2 linked regions of the Homo sapiens genome follow. The protein of the gene in region 2 purifies or fractionates together with the protein of the main gene of each other region. This does not show direct contact. Each region holds a gene or a part of one and is shown on either strand. Other genes may lie near its edges.

What was found. Proteins that work in one complex are often made in the same cells at the same time.
Region 1: the proteins of ZFP14 (region 2) and AKAP8L purify together in Homo sapiens (co-immunoprecipitation; one large-scale study listed by IntAct). This does not show direct contact.

Annotation. Positions count from the first base shown.
Region 1 is NC_000019.10:15,408,989-15,412,488, reverse strand, and holds part of AKAP8L (A-kinase anchor protein 8-like), read left to right. Parts: intron 1-1,894; coding exon 1,895-1,969; intron 1,970-3,500. UniProt on the Homo sapiens protein: Could play a role in constitutive transport element (CTE)-mediated gene expression by association with DHX9. Increases CTE-dependent nuclear unspliced mRNA export.
Region 2 is NC_000019.10:36,337,702-36,341,201, forward strand, and holds part of ZFP14 (zinc finger protein 14 homolog), read right to left. Parts: coding exon 2,523-3,500; 3' UTR 1-2,522. UniProt on the Homo sapiens protein: May be involved in transcriptional regulation.

The DNA of each region.
Region 1 (3,500 bases), about 21 Mb from region 2:
ATTAGCATCAGTCATAGTCTGTAGGAGCACTGGTTTCTGATAGAGGTAGAAGTTTTCCTTACTTGGCACTAACTCATTTTATTTTATTTCATTTATTTATTTATTTTGAGATGGAGTCTTGCTCTATTACCCAGGCTTGAGTGCAGTGGCACGATCTCCACTCACTGCAATCTCCGCCTCCTGGGTTTAAGCAGTTCTTCTGCCTCACCCTCCCAAGAACCTGGGATTACAGGCAGGTGCCACCACACCCAGCTAATTTTGGGGTTTTGTTTGTTTGTTTTGAGACGGAGTCTTGCTCTGTCGCCTAGGCTGGAATGCAGTGGCATGATTTTGGCTCACTGCAACCTCTGCCTCCTGGGTTCAAGCGATTCTCCTGCCTCAGCCTCCTGCGCAGCTGGGACTACAGGCACACACCACCACGCCCAGCTAATTTTTGTATTTTTAGTAGAGACAGGGTTTCACCATATTGGCCAGGCTGATCTCGAACTCCTAACCTCGTGATCCACCTGCCTCGGCCGCCCAAAGTGCTGGGATTACAGGCGTGAGCCACTGTGCCCTGTAATTTTTGTATTTTTAGTAGCTAATTTTTGTATTTTTAGTAGAGATGGGGTTTCACCATGTTGGCCAGGCTGGTCTTGAACTCCTGGCCTCAACCAGTCCACCCCCCCTTGGCCTCCCAAAGTACTGTGAGTACAGGCATGAGCCACTGCATCCAGCCCTAATTCATTTTATGTTGAGAAATAGTTTGAAAGTTGAGAAGATAGGAAATTTTATGTATATATAATAATACTTATTTCCATATGACCATGCCACCCCAAATAATTACTTTTAAGAAATAATTGTTTTTTGTTTTTGTTTTTGTTTTGAGACAGGGTCTTGCTCTGTCACCCAGGCTGGAATGCAGTGGCGCAATCATAGCTCACTGCAGCCTTGACCTTCTGGGCTCAAGTGACACTCCCACCTCAGCCTCCCAAGTAGCTAGGACTACAGGCACATGCTGCCACAGCTGGCTTTTTTTTTTTTTTGTAGAGACAGGGTTTCACCCTGTTGCCCAGGCTGGTCATCTTGGCCTCCCAAAGTGTTGGGATTACAGGCATGAGCCACTGCCCGGCCCAGAAATAATTGTTATAATTGTTATACACACTTTTTAATGGGAAAACCAAAATAAAAAGCAGTTTCTGTTTCAGATTTAGAACAGGGAGGGGGGTATTATTTGCTTTAACATGGTTTTGAAGCTAACCTCCATCCTTGTTTGAATTCCAAGTGGCTCACCCTTCAGGGATTTGAATAGTTTCCTCATTTAACAGAATGATAACTTGGGTGTTCATTTCTCAAAATAGGCTACTGGCTTAAATGTTTAAAAATTTTTATTTGGGGCCAGGCTCTGTGGCTCACACCTGTAATCCCAGCACTTTGGGAGGTTCAGGAGGGTGGATTGCTTAAGCCTAGGAATTAAAGACCAGCCAGGGCAACATGATGAAACCCCATCTCTACAAAAAAGTATAAAAATTAGCTGCGAATGATGGCACGAACGTATAGTCTCAGCTACTTGGGAGGCTGAGGCAGGAGGATTGTTTGAGCCTGGAAGGTCGAGGTTGCAGTGAGCCGTGATCATGCCACTGCGTTGCAGCCCGGACAGAGTGAGACCTTGTTTTTAAAAAGTAAATAAATAATTTTTTAATCTAGTCCTCCTGGTATAGCAAGTTAAACATAGCCTGCCTTTCCATTGGGTAATATTTTCTGACGGTCTAATTAAACTGTGGAATCTAGAGGTTTTGGTGGCTTTTCGTTGAGAGAAGGGCCTGCTGGCAATCCTATACCAAAGGTTAGGTAGTCTCAGGTCATTTCCCTGTGACTTGCTTGTGGAAATTAACCCCACTGTCTTTATGTTTAGGCTTTGTCCAGGGATCTGAAACCACTTTGCAGTCGACATACTCGGATACCAGCGCTCAGCCCACCTGTGATTATGGTAAGTGTGGACTTCTGGTGGGAACCAAAGTGTTCTGCAGAGCAGTTCCTTGTCTTCTTAGTTGCCTTTGGCTTTGCTGTCACCCTGTCATGCTTTTTTAAACCTAAACTTGTGTGAAATGGTGTGGCCATTTGAATAGCTAGTGCTTCCCTTTCAGGCAATTATGGGAAAAGTAGCTGTGTTCCTGAGCAAGTTAGGCTCTTTGATAAAAGGCCTGGCTTCAAATCCCCATGGGGGAGGGACTGGGAGTCACAGTGGCCAATTAAAGTCCAAAGGAGGCCAGGCGCGGTGGCTCCTGCCTGTAATCCCAGCACTTTGGGAGGCCGAGGCGGGTGGATCACTTGAGGTCAGGAGATCGAGACCATCCTGGCCAACATGGTGAAATGCCATCTATACTAAAATACAAAAAATTAGCCGGGCATGGTGGTGTGTGCCTGTGGTCGCAGCTACTCAGGAGGCTGAGGCAGGGGAATCACTTGAACCCGGGAGGCAGAGGTTACAGTGAGCCGATATCATGCCACTGCACTCCAGCCTGGCAACAGAGCAAGACTCTGTCTCAAAAAAAAAAAAGTCCAAAGGATTGGTCCAGGAGAAAGCAAGCTATTAACTTAGTCCCAGCATAGTGCATGTCCTTGCTGTGGGAGAGAGGCTGAGTGTGTGAATCTGGCAGCTTTTGGAGACTCAGCCAGGCCACCTCAAGCCAGCAGGCTCCACACACACAGAGTTGAGTGAAGATCTCTGATTGAGTTTTCCAGCGTGGACAGAAACACCTAATTAGCTAATTCAGAAGTAGCCACCAGTAGGATTCACAGATGCTGTTTTGTTTGTGTGCTGTGGCAGCCCGGACTGCTGTTAAAGCTGGTTTTTGGTTGTCTGTGACTCTAGGGGTATCTGTTGAGAAGGAGCCCTCTTTGGAATTAACAGGGATAATGTCTTAGTTACTGAGATGGGTAATTTCTTTTACTACCAAGATCTGGGGAAAGACTGATCCTACACAGCTAACATGCCTTCAGGGGTCACTGCATAAAGAGACTTAAGTAAGCTCCCCAAGTAACAGCAGCTAGTCCCAGGAAAAGGGAAGACTTAAAATATTTTGAAATTGAGTGAGAAGGTATCAGGTGTCTCATAAATGAGGAGAAACTTGGTTTGCTTGACTTCCCTGTGCTGCCCTCCCTGCCTCTCCCTTTTCATCAAATGTAGTCCCTAATTGCACATCCTTTTGAATTATTTTCCCTCTGGATTGCATATTCTGAGTACAAGCCATTTCTCGGATATGCCATTTACAAATATTTTCTCCCAGACTGTGGCTTGTCTATTCTCTTGTCAGTGTGTCTTGTCTTGTGTCAGAAAGAACACAAGTTGTTAATTTTGAAGCCCAATTCAATCTTTTCTTTAATAGATGATGGTTTTGCTTTTATATCTAAGAAATCTGTAATATTTTCTTTAGAATTTTCTTTTAGGTGTTTTAGTTGTGGGTTTTACATTTAGTCTGTGATCCATATTGAGTTAATTTTTCTACAAGGTGTGCAGT
Region 2 (3,500 bases):
CAATAAGGCTTTGTAGATGGTGGTGTGGACTTCCTATTGCATTACGTCAGGAAGTGTGTTGTCTGATAGACCCATTTTTATTAAGGTTAAAACAGATCAAAGGGTTCAGAGGTGGCCAGTTTGATAGATCCACCATAAAAATCTCGCTATAAAATATTTCACCTATTAGTTGTAGTACCCATTGAAGATCATGTTTTCTGGACCCATTATTCCATTAAGGTCTAGAAAATGGTGATTTTTCTAATCCTCTAATTCCTTCTAGATTTATTAGACTTCTTCAAAAAAGAAAAACCCATTCAAAAAACAAATTTTTTTTTTGAGACAGGGTCTCACTCTGTCACCCAGGCTGGAGTGCAGTGGCACGATCTCAGCTCACTGCAAACTCTGCCTCTTGGGTTCAAGTGATCCTCCCACCTCAGCCTGGGACTACAGGTGTGTGCCACCATGCCTGGCTAAATTTTGTATTTTTAGTACAGACAGGGTTTCACCATGTTAACCAGGTTGGTCTCAAACTCCTGGCCTCAAGTGATCCACCCACCTTGTCCTCCCAAAGTGCTGGGATTACAGGTGTGACCCCTGTGCCAGGCCAAATTCATTTGAATTTGATGAACTTCTGGTGACCCTGAAATTTGGTTCACATGGGAAAAGGAAACTAAATGACAATTTTTCCTCTGATTTATTGATTTCAAGAATAATGAGTTGGGCTGGGTGTGGTGGCTCATACCTGTAACCCCAGCACCTTTGGAGGCCAAGGAGGGAGGATCACTTGAGCCCAGAAGTTCAAGACCAGCCTGGGCAACATAGTGAGACCCTTTCTCTAAAAAAAAAAAAAAAATTTAGGTGGAAGAATCACTTGAGCCCAGGAGGAACAGGGTACAGTGAACTGTGCTTGTACCACTGCACTCCAGCCTGGGGGACAAAGTGACACCCTGTCTCAAAAAAATTATACATTGGTGCTCTAGCATCTTTCATAGGTTACCAAATTATGCAGCCACAATCAAGTAAACTATCAAATTATTGGTGGGATCACATCAAAAACTCAACTTGAAACAACTCCTACTGGTTGAAGATATGGCATTTTGAGCATCCAAAAGTATACTGACTTATAGAATGATGTTTTGTTTCTTTCCCACAGGAGTTTTATACACACACATAAATATACACAACAATATTAAATTCCTAGGTGGTTAATTTCTTTTAAGCCACATTTTTGATAGTTTCTAATTAATTTTAAACTGTGGTCAGACAACAGGGATTGTAAGCCTTTTGCTTTCTGGAATTATGGGAAAATCATTTCCTATTTCCCTCTAATTCTTCAACAGCTGTATTACTAGTGACCTCACATTCATGAAATTCATTTTTGGCATGAAATTTCTAATGCAGCTCAAGTGCTGAAGAACTTCCTACATTCACTACAATCTAAATTTTACCTAGAATAAATTATGTTTAATAATTTCTGAGAGGTGACAGGAGGCATTTCTACATTTATTATGTCTACAGATCTTCCTTTTACGTGAATTCACTAATACTAATGACAATAATAACAATTACAGATAATATTTACAGAATACATGCTATATGACTGTGATTCCTCCAAGTATTAACTACTTACTCCTTGCAACAATCCTATTCCACAGTGTGGCAGGCTGACTCTAAACAGGCCCCCCAGTGGTCCTGTCTCCAGGACTTATTCACACTCTTGTATCATCCCGTTCTCTTGAGTGTGGACTATCCTAGTAACTTACTTCTACCAGTAGAAGGTGAGGGAATGTTACTTCCATGATTAGATTACACAAGATGGTAACTTCCATCTTGCTAGCAGACTGTCCTCCCTTTTGGCTTGCATGCCTTGATGAAGCAAGCAGCCATGTTGATGAGGCTATTGTGGCCAGGAGCTGCAGTCAGCGTTCAGCCAACAGCCAGCTAGAAACTGAGAATCTCAATGCAACAGGCCTCACGGAAATACATTGGGTAACAACTATGTTAGTCTGGATGTGGATCCTTCCCCAGTTGAGCCTTCAGATGAGACCTCAGCCCTGGCTGAAATCTGTAGCCTTGCAAGAGACCCTGAAGCAGAGGACCCAACTAAGTCATGCCTATACTCCTGATCCAAATTATAAGATATAATTATATGTTATTTTATGCTACTAAGTCTGTGGTAATTTATTACGCAGCAATAAATAACTAATACATATAAGTACTATTATTACCATTTTACAAGTCAGCAAAATGAGGCACAGAAGCTTAGTATCTTGTCCAATAAATCAAACTGGTAATCAAGTGGAGAAAGGGAGATAATGACAGATAAGGCTAAAGATTTTCCTACATTCATTACATTATTCTCTCATAGGAATTTGCTGAAGATAAACCATGTTTAAATGGTGTTGGAAGGCTTTTAAATCAACATATTCTTTCTCTAATATAAAATTTATTATGCTTGGAATTGAGCATGAAACACATTTTCTCAAAAATGAATTTTCTGATGTTCTGTAACATCATATACATTTGAAGGCTTTCTTCTATTAAATTCCATTATGAATCTTCTGATGCTGAGTAAGGTGTGAATGCTGTCTAAAGGCCTTCTTACACTCCTTACACTTGTAGGGCTTCTCACCAGTATGAATTCTCTGGTGTTGAGTAAGAAATGAATAAAGTCTAAAAGCCTTACCACATTCCTTACATTCATAAGGTTTCTCACCAGTGTGAATACTCTGATGTTGGGTAAGTTGTGAGAGCAGTCTAAAAGGTTTTCTACATTCCTTACATTCATAAGGTTTCTCACCAGTGTGAATACTTTGATGCTGAGTAAGTTGTGAGAGCAGTCTAAAGGCCTTTCCACACTCTTCACATTCATAGGGTCTCTCACCAATATGAATGCTCTGGTGTGAAATAAGCTGTGAGTAACTACTAAAGGTCTTCCAACATTCCATACATTCATAGGGTTTCTCACGAGTATGTATTCTCTGATGGCGAACTAGTTGTTGTCTTAATCTAAAAGTCTTCCCACATTCCTTACATTCGTAGGGTTTCTCACCAGTATGAATACTCTGATGAACAGTAAGTTGTTGGCATATTCTAAAAGCCTTTCCACACTCCTTACATTCATAGGGTTTCTCACCAAAATGAATTTTCTGATGTACTCTAAGGTCTGGACCACATACGAAGGCTTTCCCACATTCCTTACATTCATAGAGCTTTTCAGCAGTATGAAGTCTCTGATGGCGTGTAAGGTGTGTACACTGTCTAAAGGTCTTTCCACAGTCCTTACATTCATAGGGTTTCTCACCAGTGTGAATTCTCTGATGTCGAGCCAGTTGCTGATGTACTCTAAAGGCCTTTCCACATTCCTTACATTCATAGGGTTTTTCACCCGTATGAAGTCTCTGATGTTGAGTAAGTTCTTGGAGCACTGTAAAGGCCTTCCCACACTCCTTACATTCATAGGGTTTCTCACCGGTGTGAAGTTTGTGATGTCGAATAAGATGTGCACGCTGTCTAAA